4 linked regions of the Homo sapiens genome follow. The protein of the gene in region 4 purifies or fractionates together with the protein of the main gene of each other region. This does not show direct contact. Each region holds a gene or a part of one and is shown on either strand. Other genes may lie near its edges.

Evidence for each region. Proteins that work in one complex are often made in the same cells at the same time.
Region 1: the proteins of COPRS (region 4) and WDR77 purify together in Homo sapiens (affinity purification with mass spectrometry; 3 studies listed by BioGRID and IntAct, with this or other methods). This does not show direct contact.
Region 2: the proteins of COPRS (region 4) and ACAD11 purify together in Homo sapiens (co-immunoprecipitation; 2 studies listed by BioGRID and IntAct, with this or other methods). This does not show direct contact.
Region 3: the proteins of COPRS (region 4) and ATE1 purify together in Homo sapiens (co-immunoprecipitation; 2 studies listed by BioGRID and IntAct, with this or other methods). This does not show direct contact.

The regions. Positions count from the first base shown.
Region 1 is NC_000001.11:111,439,390-111,442,823, forward strand, and holds the end of WDR77 (methylosome protein WDR77), read right to left. Parts: intron 3,373-3,434; coding exon 3,264-3,372; intron 2,741-3,263; coding exon of another isoform or gene 2,705-2,740; coding exon 2,636-2,704; intron 2,001-2,635; coding exon 1,841-2,000; 3' UTR 501-1,840; downstream 1-500. UniProt on the Homo sapiens protein: Non-catalytic component of the methylosome complex, composed of PRMT5, WDR77 and CLNS1A, which modifies specific arginines to dimethylarginines in several spliceosomal Sm proteins and histones.
Region 2 is NC_000003.12:132,653,310-132,656,809, forward strand, and holds part of ACAD11 (acyl-CoA dehydrogenase family member 11), read right to left. Parts: intron 1,362-3,500; exon of another isoform or gene 1,121-1,361; intron 1-1,120. UniProt on the Homo sapiens protein: Acyl-CoA dehydrogenase, that exhibits maximal activity towards saturated C22-CoA.
Region 3 is NC_000010.11:121,914,532-121,918,031, forward strand, and holds part of ATE1 (arginyl-tRNA--protein transferase 1), read right to left. Parts: intron 1-3,500. UniProt on the Homo sapiens protein: Involved in the post-translational conjugation of arginine to the N-terminal aspartate or glutamate of a protein. This arginylation is required for degradation of the protein via the ubiquitin pathway. Does not arginylate cysteine residues.
Region 4 is NC_000017.11:31,853,808-31,856,244, reverse strand, and holds part of COPRS (coordinator of PRMT5 and differentiation stimulator), read left to right. Parts: intron 1-2,437. UniProt on the Homo sapiens protein: Histone-binding protein required for histone H4 methyltransferase activity of PRMT5.

The sequences.
Region 1 (3,434 bases), on a different chromosome or scaffold from region 4:
TGAAACCCTGTCTCTACTAAACACACAAAAATTAGCCTGTAATCCCAGCTACTCAAGAGGCTGAGACAGGAGAATTGCTTGAACCCAGGAGGCGAAGGTTGCAGTGAGCCAAGATCATGCCACTGCACACTAGCCTGGGCAGCAAGAGTGAAACTCCATCTCAACAAAAGAAAAAAAAAACCTATGCTTCCCTTCCATATTGTAACCACCTTGACACATTTCCTTCCTTATCACACATTTCCACACATTTGCTTCCTTATCTCTTTCACTGAGTTTTTTCTCCATCATTCTTAAGTCCAGGAAGAAAAGGGCTATGCAAATTCCTACTCACCTCAAGCTCCCCCACCCCTTACTTTCTCTAAGTGTCCACAAAATTAAAGTTTTATCTTCGAGAGGCAGAACTTAAGTGATTGTACCTACCCATTCTATTTCCTCCCACATTATAAAAATGATGCAAGACTTTATTCCTACTCCACATCAACGCCAGAGGATCACACAACTACAAATTCCCATGTTTTACTCAAGGGTAATCATGTCAAGGGTGAAGCATGGAAGCTTTACTGAGAAATATTTTGCCCATATTCCTTCAGACTTTCCCAGTTTCATAATGTGATTTTTACCTAAATTGAACCTGCAAAGCTCAAAAGTACATAATTGATTATATTTACTTTCAATATAATCAGTAATTGATCCATGACTCCTAACTGGCAATATCCACTCCACCAACCCAAGAATAAATATTTACCTTAAGTTCTAACTAGCTACTTTGGGAAGCTGGGGAAGCACAGGAAAAATAATGGGCTACAAGACCAACACCATGATGACTCACATAAGTGAAATATATCTAACTACACATAACACACATGCTTCAAAAAAGACAGGCCAACAATGCCTAAACTCTTTATTTCACCAACCAGTATTTCTGATTTTCTTCTTGATACTGGATTTTAAAACCTTAGAAGTCTATAAATACTGCATTCAGACTTTCCACATCAAGAGAAAGGGGACCAGGGCAGAAGATGTCAGGCCCCATGCTGTTTTGGGGTGGGAAAAGTGGCAAAGAATTCTCAACAGCCTGTGTCAGTTTTCTAACTTAATTGAAACACCTTTAAGCTCTCCTTCATCCCCAAACTTTCCCCTATGGTGTCTATGATAGAAAAACACTTCTCTCTCATATATGTCCCATCACTAGGGAGCCAGGGGGAAGGGAGTGGGCATTACACAGGCAAGCCAAACTTTTTATTCAGCCAGAAAATGGATTTCTGATTCAGTTTAATGGTAAGGAGTTGTGTAAAACCGTACCAAGTCCTGCTTCTTCCTCAGAGTGAGCTGGGCTGCATTTTTGTGACTGGAAGCATTTCTCATAATGGTGAATTAAGCACTATAAAAAAATAAAGTCAATCCCATCTCTATGAGTAGCATAAGAGCTGCTTCCAAGAACCCAGGGATGCCCACATCCCATAACCCACCCAGACACGGCCAATTCCTCATAGACAGCTACATAAAACCCTTTCGTCAACTTGTTTTGGGGGGTGAGAGAGAGGCAGTGCTTAGGGAAGATGTAGGATGGATTTTTTTTATTCCTGCCACTACCAAAAACTATAAATCTACACACACACTCACACGCACATACATGTCCATTTTTAAGAAAGCTTTTCCTCCCTGTGACTACAGGAACCCAGAATCCAGCCTCCCTCAGGCTGAGAGACGATGCCTATTAACGGCACAGATCTAGCATATCAACATACTATAGAAGGCTCCTGTGTTGTCTCACAAGCTGAGAGGGCAGGGCAAAGAAGTGGACACTCATGGGGGACTTGCTTTTTGTCTTAAATCCAATCTACTCAGTAACACTTGCAGGTCCAGGGGCTGGGAGAGGTTCTGTGGGCACAACGTGGTGGACGACCTGATGGTCCCAGCCCACTGTGGTAAGCAGGGAGTGATTGAGCGGGGACCAAGTCGCATCTCTCACAAAGTCTCTGTGGGCTTGGCTTCTAAACCTAGAAGAAAGAAAAAAAGTCGGGGCAGAGTAGAGACAAGAAAAGCAGACCTGGAGAAAAAAAGAGAACCCAACACATCTGGGGCACATTTTTTGGGTGTGTTACACACATTTCACCAACTGTATGGCCTCATCGCCAGGATAGCAGTGTAGCTATCCACAGTGGATGTCATCAGTCATCCAATCCAGTCTTCTATTTTCATAGATGAAGAAATGCTGGATAGAACAAGACAGTGATGAGGGGCAGTAACAGGCAGCAAATCACGGCAAGGAGGGAAGTACAATTCAGGTCTTCCAGGTGCTGCCTTTTACCCTGTAGCAGGCTGCATTTCATACGCAGTTCTTTATGTGAGAGGGTAGACTGCCGCCCCCTTGTGGGAGAGCGCTGGAGGGCTAGACTTAAAAATTTCACCTACCACCCCCCTCTACCAAGGACACGGCTTGTCCTTGGGGTTGTGAATGTGCCCCAGGAATGGACAGGGTCAACAGCCAGCCTGCTTCCATTACCAAGTCCCTTCGGATACAGATGGAGAATCTGTTCTCCAAAAGCACAACACAGTTTTCTGAAGAGGAAAATGACTCGCCCACCCACTGCTCCCCTTCCCTGATTCCCAAAGGATTCCACTTCACACTTACAACTCAGAAAGGCTTGAGTCCAGCACAGCAAGTGAGCAGTCTTCACTGAGAGAGGCCAGGAAGGGAACACTATCAGATGGAGGAGAGGGTTGTGAAAGGTCCAGCCTGGATCCCAAGACAAAACCTTAACTGGGCCGGCCCTGCCGCCACTGTAAAGTGACCCAGGAGAGGCAGCCTGATTCCCACTTTTGGCTAATCTGGCTACTACAAGTCCACACTAAAAGTTTCAAGTAAAGATGAGGGAAATGAAGCAAAGTTAGGGTTGACAACCATCCTGGCAACTAACCACCCCATCTGGTCCCTCTCTATAGCTTCAGCAATAACCCAGAAACACAGGCTTTTCCAATCTCACAGTCCTAGAAGCCCACAACATTAACCATTTTGGGTGTTGGGCAGGAATGAAATCACATTTTAGCCATTTCAGACAGAAACCATCTAATCTGAAAAATCCTTTGACTCCCAAAGGATTCTACTTCACACTTAAGAGATCTTCGATGTTCCGAAACCTCAGCTAGAACACTGTCTGCTTTAAGGAACTACTTCATCAGCTAATGCTTTGAAAACATACACACACACCCTCACGGTTCCCATTTATACCCATCAGGCCCCTGATGACAAAGAACAGTACCTGTGTGGGGAGAACACCAGCCCAGTGACACACTGGGAGTGTACAGCTGAGCTCAGGACACAGCTTGTACTCTTGGTGTCCACAAGGGAGACTGTCCCATTCTCATCACCTGTAGAAGAGAAGGAACATGTCATAGTGATTAAGAGCATGGACTTTTGTGCCAAAGACTTG
Region 2 (3,500 bases), on a different chromosome or scaffold from region 4:
GCAAATAGGAGCAATCAGATGAGAACTTCCACAAGCTTACACTACTGTATCTACTGCATACAATAATCTGTACACATATATTCTGTCTTCCCTCCAAAGTCTGCAGAAGGACGTGCACATTTCTATCTAAGGGCAACCCCTTCTCTTGCATATTAGAGTCCTGCCTTCTTAAGGACTTCTTTCCAGGCCTCTCTCCTACACAAAATTTTCTCTTCTAGATTACTGTCATCAGCATACAAATATGATGTTATTTTTTAAAAAGCTTTCTCTTGACCTCACTTCCCCCCTACTTAAAACATTTCTATTTCCTTTCGTAGAAAAACTCCTCAAGAGATTACACGTCCTCCTCCTATCTTCTTAAACCCATTTCAATCAAGCTTTCATTCCCTTCTTTCCATTAATACTACTTTTTCAAGATCACTAATACAAACCATGGTTTTCCCCCACCTCTTTGGCCACTTCTTCTAAGACTCCTTTGTAGGTTTCTCTTAATTTGCTAACTTCTTAATATTGGGGTGCCTTGGACTCAGTCTCCAAACCTCCTTTTTATGTGAACTATTTTCTAAGTAAGACCTTCGATCTTATGTCTTTAAATATCTTCTTTTTGTCGATGGCTCTCAAATTTATATGTCTAGTCCAGATCTCTGCCCCGACCTCAAGACATAACCAACTGCTTACTATACATATCTACTTGGATGTCTAAAAGGCATCTTGAAACTTAACACTCCAAAACTGAGTTCCTCAAATTTCCCCCTCAAATCTGCTTTTCTATAGTCACCTACATTTCAGTTCACAATAACCCTATTCTTTCAGTTACCAAGGCAGAAATGAAATAATCTTCGTCTCTTCCTTTCCTAGCCCACATTTAATCAGTTAGTAAACCCTTCAAAATACAGTCATGCATTGCTTAATGACAGGGATGTGTTCTGGAAAATATGTTGTTAAGTGATTTTTGTCACGTGTAAACATCCTAGAGTGCACTTACACAAACCTAGATGGTATAGCCTATTATGCACTGATATATAATTATGTTTTATGATCATAAATGTCTCATAATGGAGTCACTTATGACAAGTGACTCAGCTTACAGTGAAATCACTGACCACTCAGAGTAGTAAGCATATGTGTGGTGGACTGAGGTGATAAGATAGCATCTGCTGTGGCCAGGCATCCCTGACACCTGACAAGAAAGTAAAGCCAAAAGTCAGCTGAAGATAATGGCCATGGAGATGTCTGTGGAGAGCCGTAAAAGCCAATCATGGCTGAGATGCCTGCAGAATCTCTGCCCATGAGAACTCTGAGGCCTCCTTTCCTTTGGCTGTGGTAAGCCCTCTGGGAAAAGAGCAGCTACCCACCACCAGGTCAGTGGGCATTCTGAGGAAAACCAAACCTGGTTTTCTCAGTCAGTGTGCTGGTCTCCCAGAATACTTGCTGTGTTTCCCTTCTCTATTAATGCCTATGTGTGTTGGATAGAGTTACATGATTGTTGTGTAGAAGCCACACAATAAATCGTGAATTCCTAAGCATTTAATTGGCACTGATTCGTTGTGAAACTTCTCAGCTGGTTGGAGTTAGCATAAATAGGCTGATTTGAACCCGATAGGACACACCTGAGCTCTGTGGTACAGCCTGCTGCTCCTAGGCTATAAACCTGTGCAGCATGTGACTGTACTGAATACTGCAGGCAATTAATTGTAACAAAATGATAAGCATTTGTGTATCTAAACACATTTAAACATAGAAAAGGTACAGTAAAAACACAGTATTATAATCTAATGGGACCACTGCCGTATATGCAGCCCGTCATTGACCAAAACGTCATTATGCAGCATGTGACTATATACTTACACTATGACCACTTCTTACCCATTCTACACTCCCACTCTGGTCTATGCCACTGATATCTCCCTGCTGGAACACTGTAATACATTGGTGTCCTTGCTTCTGCCCTTGGCCCCTTCAGTCAACTCTCAACACAAGAAGCAGAGATTCTGTTTTTTTTGTTGTTGTTGTTTGTTTGTTTGTTTAAAGATTACTTCCCTCCTCTGCTCAAGCATGTTTTAAGTCTCTCTCCATCTCAATTCAAAGTAAAAGCCAAAGTCTCTTTATTGCCTGACAGGGTCCCTGTTGCCCTTGCTTACACTACTTCAGGCATTTGGGCTGTGTTTCCTCAACACACTGGGCACACATCCCTTCCAGGGCCTTTGCATTAGCAGTCCCCTCTGTCTGGAACACTCTTTTCCTGGATATTTACATGGCTCACATTTTCATCCCCCTTCAAGTCTTTGCTGAATGCCGTGTGCTCGAGGAAATCTTCCTGCCCCACACCCAAACATTTCCTATTCTCTTTTCCTCCATGTTACATATCAACTTCTACATTGTAAAGTTCAGAAGCTGATTTTCCTGTCTGTCTTCTACAAATACAATGGAAGTTCCAGGGAGGCAAGATTATTGTTACATCCTCAGTGGTTGATACAGTGCCAGATACATATTAGGCACTCAGCTGCAAATCACAAGTTTTGTTGTATCAAGCTATATAATACTTTCATTATTGATTAATTCTAAATATTTTATCTTTCCAATAAGATTTAATTTTTGCAAATTTTAAAAGTAAATCTTGCAGATAAAAAGAGTATTTATGAAATTGGTAAGGCATGAGGAATAGTAATGCCACAAACACCATTTTCACTACCCGGAGAAAATTACTGTCTTTGAAACCCTGTATGTCCTTCCCCTTGAGTGACTACCATTCTGAATTTTATATTTATCATTCCCTTGAAGTTTATCTCTGTATATAATATACTGTTAATTTCTTCACGTTTTTCATTCTGTGTTATGTACAGCTGTAGCTGAATCATTTTCACTGTTGTATGCTACTCCATTATGTGAATATACTGCAATTTATTCATCCATTCTGTATCTATAGACATTGTGTTGTTTCCTGGATTTTTGCTATTACAAACAGTACAATGAACATCTTTGTAGATTGTCCCCTTATACTGTAGTACAAGAAAAGTCTCAGGAGTATGTATCTATGAGTAGAACTGCTAGGTCATAGGTCATGTGTATCTTCCCAACTTCATTTTTACAAGATCATGTTGAGTTATTTTTCAATAGCAGCTATACTAATTCACACCCCTATATGAGTCCCTGTTGCCCCATATCCTGATGCTTGATATTGTCAGATTTTTTTTTTTTTTGAGACGGAGTCTGCCTCTGACTCACCCAGACTGGAGTGCAGTGCTGTGATCTCAGCTCACTAAAGCCTCTGCCTCCCAGGTTCAAGCAATTCTCCTGCCTCAGCCTCCCGAGTAGCTGGGATTTACAGGTACCCACCACCACACCCAGCTAATTTCGTATTTTTAGTAGAGACGGGGTTTCACCATGTTGGCCAGGCTGGTCTCGAACTCGACCTCTGGTGATCCACCTGCTTCAGCCTCCCAAAGTGCTGGGATTACAGGCATGAGCCACTGCACCCAGTCTATTGTCAGATTTTTTAA
Region 3 (3,500 bases), on a different chromosome or scaffold from region 4:
CTATATTACCCTTAAAAGTCTTAGGGATTGGTGACACCTCATAGCTCTGGAAATATGAGTGAAAGTTAGGTCTAAAAATAGAAAGATCCCTTCAAAGTCTTGTTTTCGAAGCAGTTAGGATAGATGTCAGATCCCCTCTCCCATCCGCAGATGACTAGACGACTCCCTACTCAACCCAGCAGAAAACTGCAAACTTGCAGGAAAGAGTAACATAGAGCCTCTTACAGGATGGATGCAAGCCACAGCTGAAAGCAGCGGTACTACTGAAAACGGCTTAAATAAAAGTGTACACAGTACATGTTGAGATCACCAACCCAGGTCCAGAACAACAGCAGGTTATGAAATACTTTCTCTCCAGAATGTGATCAGACCTAAAAATACTAACATCAGGGATTCCCCAACAGAAGAGCCCAGCCAGATCACCCACAGTAAACAAGGCCGAGAAACACCCAAGACCCACAGTAAACCAAACCCATCAGGTACACGGAATTTCCAATGGAACACTGAAAAGTCAGAATCACCAGACACTCGAGAAGAGCCTCCACTGAAAAGATAGGTACCGAACAAACTGGAGAAAGTAACCTGGAGGACATAGACCATGACAGAAAGAAGAGAACCTTTTAAAAAAATCCTTAGGAAGATCTCGTTTATTAAGCCACTACATCCATAAAATAACAAGGTGTTATTAAATAAACAAATAAGAGTCTGAGAACAAAAACAACTTCAAAAGTAAAAATATGACAGGAGAAATGTAAAAATTAAGTAGAAGACCTGAAAACTGAAGTTGAAGAAACCTTCCAGAAGATTCTGCAAAAAAGATGAAAAACTGAAGAGAAAAGGTAAAGTCAGAGACTAGTTTAAAAGGTCCAAAATCTAAATAAAGGCATTAAAAAAGAAAATGGAGGTGAAAAGATAGAATAAAAAATTTAAGAAAATTCCCCTGAACTAAAGGATAAGATGGGACGAGCCCCCAGATAAGAAGGGCCCCTCCAGTTTGTCTGTGATGGATAAAAACAGACACATAGCCAAACTGACTATGAAATGTAGAACAGAGGATAGAAAAGCTTCCTAAGAGAGGCCGGGCGCCGTGGCTCACACCTGTAATCCCAGCACTTTGGGAGGCCGAGGCAGGCGGATCACGAGGTCAGGAGATCGAGACTATCCTGGCTAACATGGTGAAACCCTGTCTCTAATAAAAATACAAAAAAAATTAGCCAGGCGTGGTGGCGGGCACCTGTAGTTCCAGCTACTTGGGAGGCTGAGGCAGGAGAATGGCATGAACCTGGGAGGCAGAGCTTGCAGTGAGCCAAGATCACACCACTGCACTCCAGCCTGGGCAACAGAGTGAGACTCCATCTCAAAAAAAAAACAAAACAAAACAAAACAAAAAAAAACAAGAAAAAGAGAAGAAAAGAAAAGCTTCGGCCAGGCACAGTGGCTCATGCCTGTAATATCAGCACTTTGGGAGGCCGAGGCGGGCAGATCACAAGGTCAGGAGATGGAGACCACCCTGGCTAACAAGGTGAAACCCCGTCTCTACAAAAAATTAGCCGGGCGTGGTGGCAGGCACCTGTAGTCCCAGCTACTCAGGAGGCTGAGGCAGGAGAATGGCATGAACCCAGGAGGCGGAGCTTGCAGTGAGCAGAGATCACACCACTGCACTCCAGCCTGGGAAACAGAGCGAGACTCTGCCTCGAAAAACAAAAAACAACAACAAAAAAAAGGAACACTTCCAAAGAGAAAGAACACGTCTCAGACAAAGGTATGAGGATCAGAATATCACCGCACTTCTCAACAGTAATAATACGATAGTGGAACAAAATTCTAGAAAAATTATTTTCATCCTGCACTTCTGTACCCTCCCAAACTAAAGTTTGAGCAGTGAATCAAAGTTTGCAGACACACAAGGTCTCAAAAATGTAACTCTTATGCACTTTCTCTATTAGAAGATGTGCTTCACTAAAACAAGGGAATAATCCAAGAAAGAAGGGTTTCCAACTCAGGTGCTAAAAAGAATCCCCAGGCCGGGCGCGGTGGCTCACGCTTGCAATCCCAACACTTTGGGAGGCTGAGGCAGGTGGATCACGAGGTCAGGAGATCAACACCATCCTGGCTAACACGGTGAAACCCCGTCTCTACTGAAAATACAAAAAATTAGCCAGGTATGGTGGCACATGCCTGTAGTCCCAGCTACTCGGGAGGCTAAGGCAGGAGAATCACTTGAACCTGGGAGGCAGAGGGAGCAGTGAGCCAAGATCGCGCCACTGCACTCCAGCCTGGGCAACAAAACGAGACTCCGTCTCAAACAAAAAAAAAAAATCCCCAAGATGACAGTAAAAAGAATAGCCCAGGCCACATATGGTGGCTCATGCCTGTAATCCCTGCACTTTGGGAGGCCGAGGTGGGTGGATCATGTGAGGTATGGAGTTCGAGACCAGCCTGGCCAACATGATGAAACCCCATCTCTACTAAAAATACAAAACTTAGCCAGGCATAGTGGTGGGCGCCTGTAATCCCAGCTACTCAGGAGGCTGAGGCAGGAAAATCACTTGAGCCCAAGGGTGGAGGTTGCAGTGAACTGAGATTGTGCCAGTACACTCCAGCCTGGGCAACAACAGCAAAACTCCATCTCAAAAAAAAAAATAGCCCAGGCTGACCGTGATGCTTCAGGTGCAGGGGGTAACCTGTTCAGATCAAGCCGGTCAGAAGGCTCCACAAGGGACTTTTCTCAAGTAGATAAAAGCGATCATAGCACTTGATGCGTTTAAATATACTAAGAAAAAACTTACATAACTGGGATTTATTTTCAAAATAATCTGGTCATAGTTATATACACTATGCAAACAAAAAAGATAATTAGTAACTCCAAGGAAAGCAAAAACTTGTGCAGGAAAAGTAATCACAGTACCCGCCATGGTTCAGTTGTGAAGCATATTTACACAGTCACAATGGATATGAACACATCTGCCCAAAATCACACTTCTGAATGGAAAGCTAGGGATGGGGACAAAAACGAGCTTGAATGTGGCAGGGAAACAGGGATAAGAGAAAACTAAATCCTTATCTTCCACAGAGAGAAGCCCGGAAATAATGGAGAAAACTAACAGAAAAAGAAAAAAAATGCAAGTGTTACAATTATATAAGCATGTTGCTTAAAGACAGGGAGATGAAAAACCAAAAGAATTAGTTAAAATGTTTCAAGATGACTGCCTTAGGGGAACAGGAAATGGGACAGGGGGGTTGGGGGATTGCTTTTTCCAAAACAAACTTTATTGCAACTTGACATTTAATGAGCATGTGGAATTCTGATAAAAATAAAAAACTTAAAAAATCATAGCCAGAAAAGTTCATCCTCATTTATACACACATACTGGAGAGTCCCTACTGACTAACAAGAAGCTAAGCTGTTAGCTATAAGCCCCTTTCCTTTATCTAAGTTCTCATTGCAACTGCTGTTATATACAAGGTAAAAATAACCAGAAGAGTAAATATGGAAAATG
Region 4 (2,437 bases):
TCCTGCCTCAGCCTCCCGAGTAGCTGGAACTACAGGCACGCGCCACCACACCCAGCTAACTTTTGTATTTTTAGTAGCTATGGGGTTTTACTATGTTGGCCAGGCTGGTCTCGAACTCCTGATCTCAAGTGATCTGCCCACCTAGGCCTCCCAAAGTGCTGGGATTACTGTGAGCCCACGCTCCCAAAGTGCTGGGATTACAAAGGCATGAGCCACTGTGCCCAGCCCCCTGCCGTTTTTTTTTTTTTTTGAGAGGGAGTTTTGCTCTTGTTGCCCAGGCTGGAGTGCAATGGCACAATCTTGGCTCACTGCAACCTCTGCCTCCTGGATTCAAGCATTCTCCTACCTCAGCCTCCCAAGTAGCTGGATTACAGGCATATGCCACCATGCCCAGCTAATTTTTGTATTTTTAGTAGAGATGGGGTTTCACCATGTTAGCCAGGCTGGTCTCGAACTCCTGACCTCACCTGATCCATCTGCCTCAGCCTCTCAGAGTGCTGGGATTACAGGTGTGAGCTACCACGCTTGGCCCCTTTTTTTCTTTTTCTTTTTTTTTTTTGAGATGGAGTCTCACTCTGTCACCCAGGCTGGAGTGCAGTGTCGCAATCTTGGCTCACTGCAACCTCTGTCTCCCGGGTTCAAGTGATTCTCGTGCCTCAGCCTCCTGAGTAGCTGGGATTACAGGCGTGCACCATATCGCCTGGCTAATTTTTGTATTTATTTATTTATTTATTTATTTATTTTTTGAGACGGAGTCTCGCTCTGTCTCCCAGGCAGTGGCACTATCTCGGCTCACTGCAAACTCTGCCCCCTGGGTTCACACCATTCTCCTGCCTCAGCCTCCCGAGTAGCTGGGACCACAGGCACCCGCCACCACGCCTGGCTAATTTTTTGTGTTTTTAGTAGAGATAGGATTTTACCTTGTTAGGATGGTCTCGATCTCCTGACCTCGTGATCTGCCCTCCTTGGCCACCCAAAGTGCTGGGATTACAGGCGTGAGCCACTGCTCCCGGCCTAATTTTTGTATTTTTAGTGGAGAGGGGCTTTCACCATGTTGGCCAGGCTGGTCTCAAACTCCTGACCTCAGGTGATCCGCCCACCTCGGCCTCCCAAAGTGCTGGGATTACAGGCATGAGCCACCGTGCCTGGCCTTTTTTTTTCTTTTAACTCTCACAACAACCCTATCTTCATTTTACAGATGTGGAAGTTGAGGCACAGAACAGTTAAATAAAAACAATTTAAAAATTGTGGTAAAAGATGCATAACCTAAATTTACCATGTAACCATTTTAACGCATATAATTCAGTAGCCTTTTAGCACAATGGCAGTGTTGTGCAACCATCACCACTACCTAGTTCCAGAATCTTTTCATCACCCTAAAAGGAAACCCTGTGCTCACCAAGTAGTCATTCTCCATTCCTTCCTTCTCTGAGCTCTTGGCAACCACTAATTTGCTTTCTGTCTCTGTGGGTTTATCTGTTCTGGATAGGCAAATGTGAGTTGCCTGTAAAGGGAATCATAACAATATGTGGCCTTTTGTGTCTGGCTTCTTCCACTTAGCGTATTTTCAAGGTGCATCCATGCCGTAGCATGTATCAGCACTGCATTCCTTTTTATGGCTGAATAATTCCATCATATGCATATACCACATTTTGTTTTTCCATTCATCCATTGATGGACATTTGATGTTGTGTCTACCTTTTGGTGATTGTAAATAGTGCTGCTGTGAGTATCCTTGTTTTATTTGAACAGCTGTTTTCAGTTCTTTTGGGTATATGTTTAGGACTGGGATTGCTGGGTCATATGGTAATTCTATATTTATGTTATGGAACTAGTTAAGTAAATTTCAGCTCAATCACACTTTTTTTTTTTTTTTTTTTTTTTTTTTTGGAGACAGGGTCTCACTCTGTGCAATGGCACGATCTTGGCTCACTGCAGCCTCCACCTCCCAGGTTCAAGCGATCCTCCCACCTCAGCCTCTTGAGTAGCTGGGATTACAGGTGCATGCCACTGCACCCAGCTAAATTTTTTGAATTTTTTGTAGAGACAGGGTTTGCGACATTGTTCAGGCTGGCCTTGAACTCCTGAGCTCAAGCAGTCCACCCACCTTGGCCTCCCAAAGTGCTAGGTTTACAAGGGTGAGCTACCGTGCCCGGCCCAGTCCGATGTTTGGTAATTGACAAAACACGGATTTGAAATCAGACAGTCTGGCTTTAGACCCCTTGCTCTGAACTATCACTTTATTGCTTATCACTGTTACTGTTGTTCCAGTATTAAGAGCATGGCTGTTTTAGGCTGATTGCCTTCTCTCCTGGGACCTGGCATCACCAAAGCACTATGTGCTCGGAAATCCATTATCTTTCCCCAGTCTTTCCTCCGTTATTGTGAGGCCTTTTGAAAATGTACCTTCCGGCCTCCCTGATGTCAGAGGGAGGCA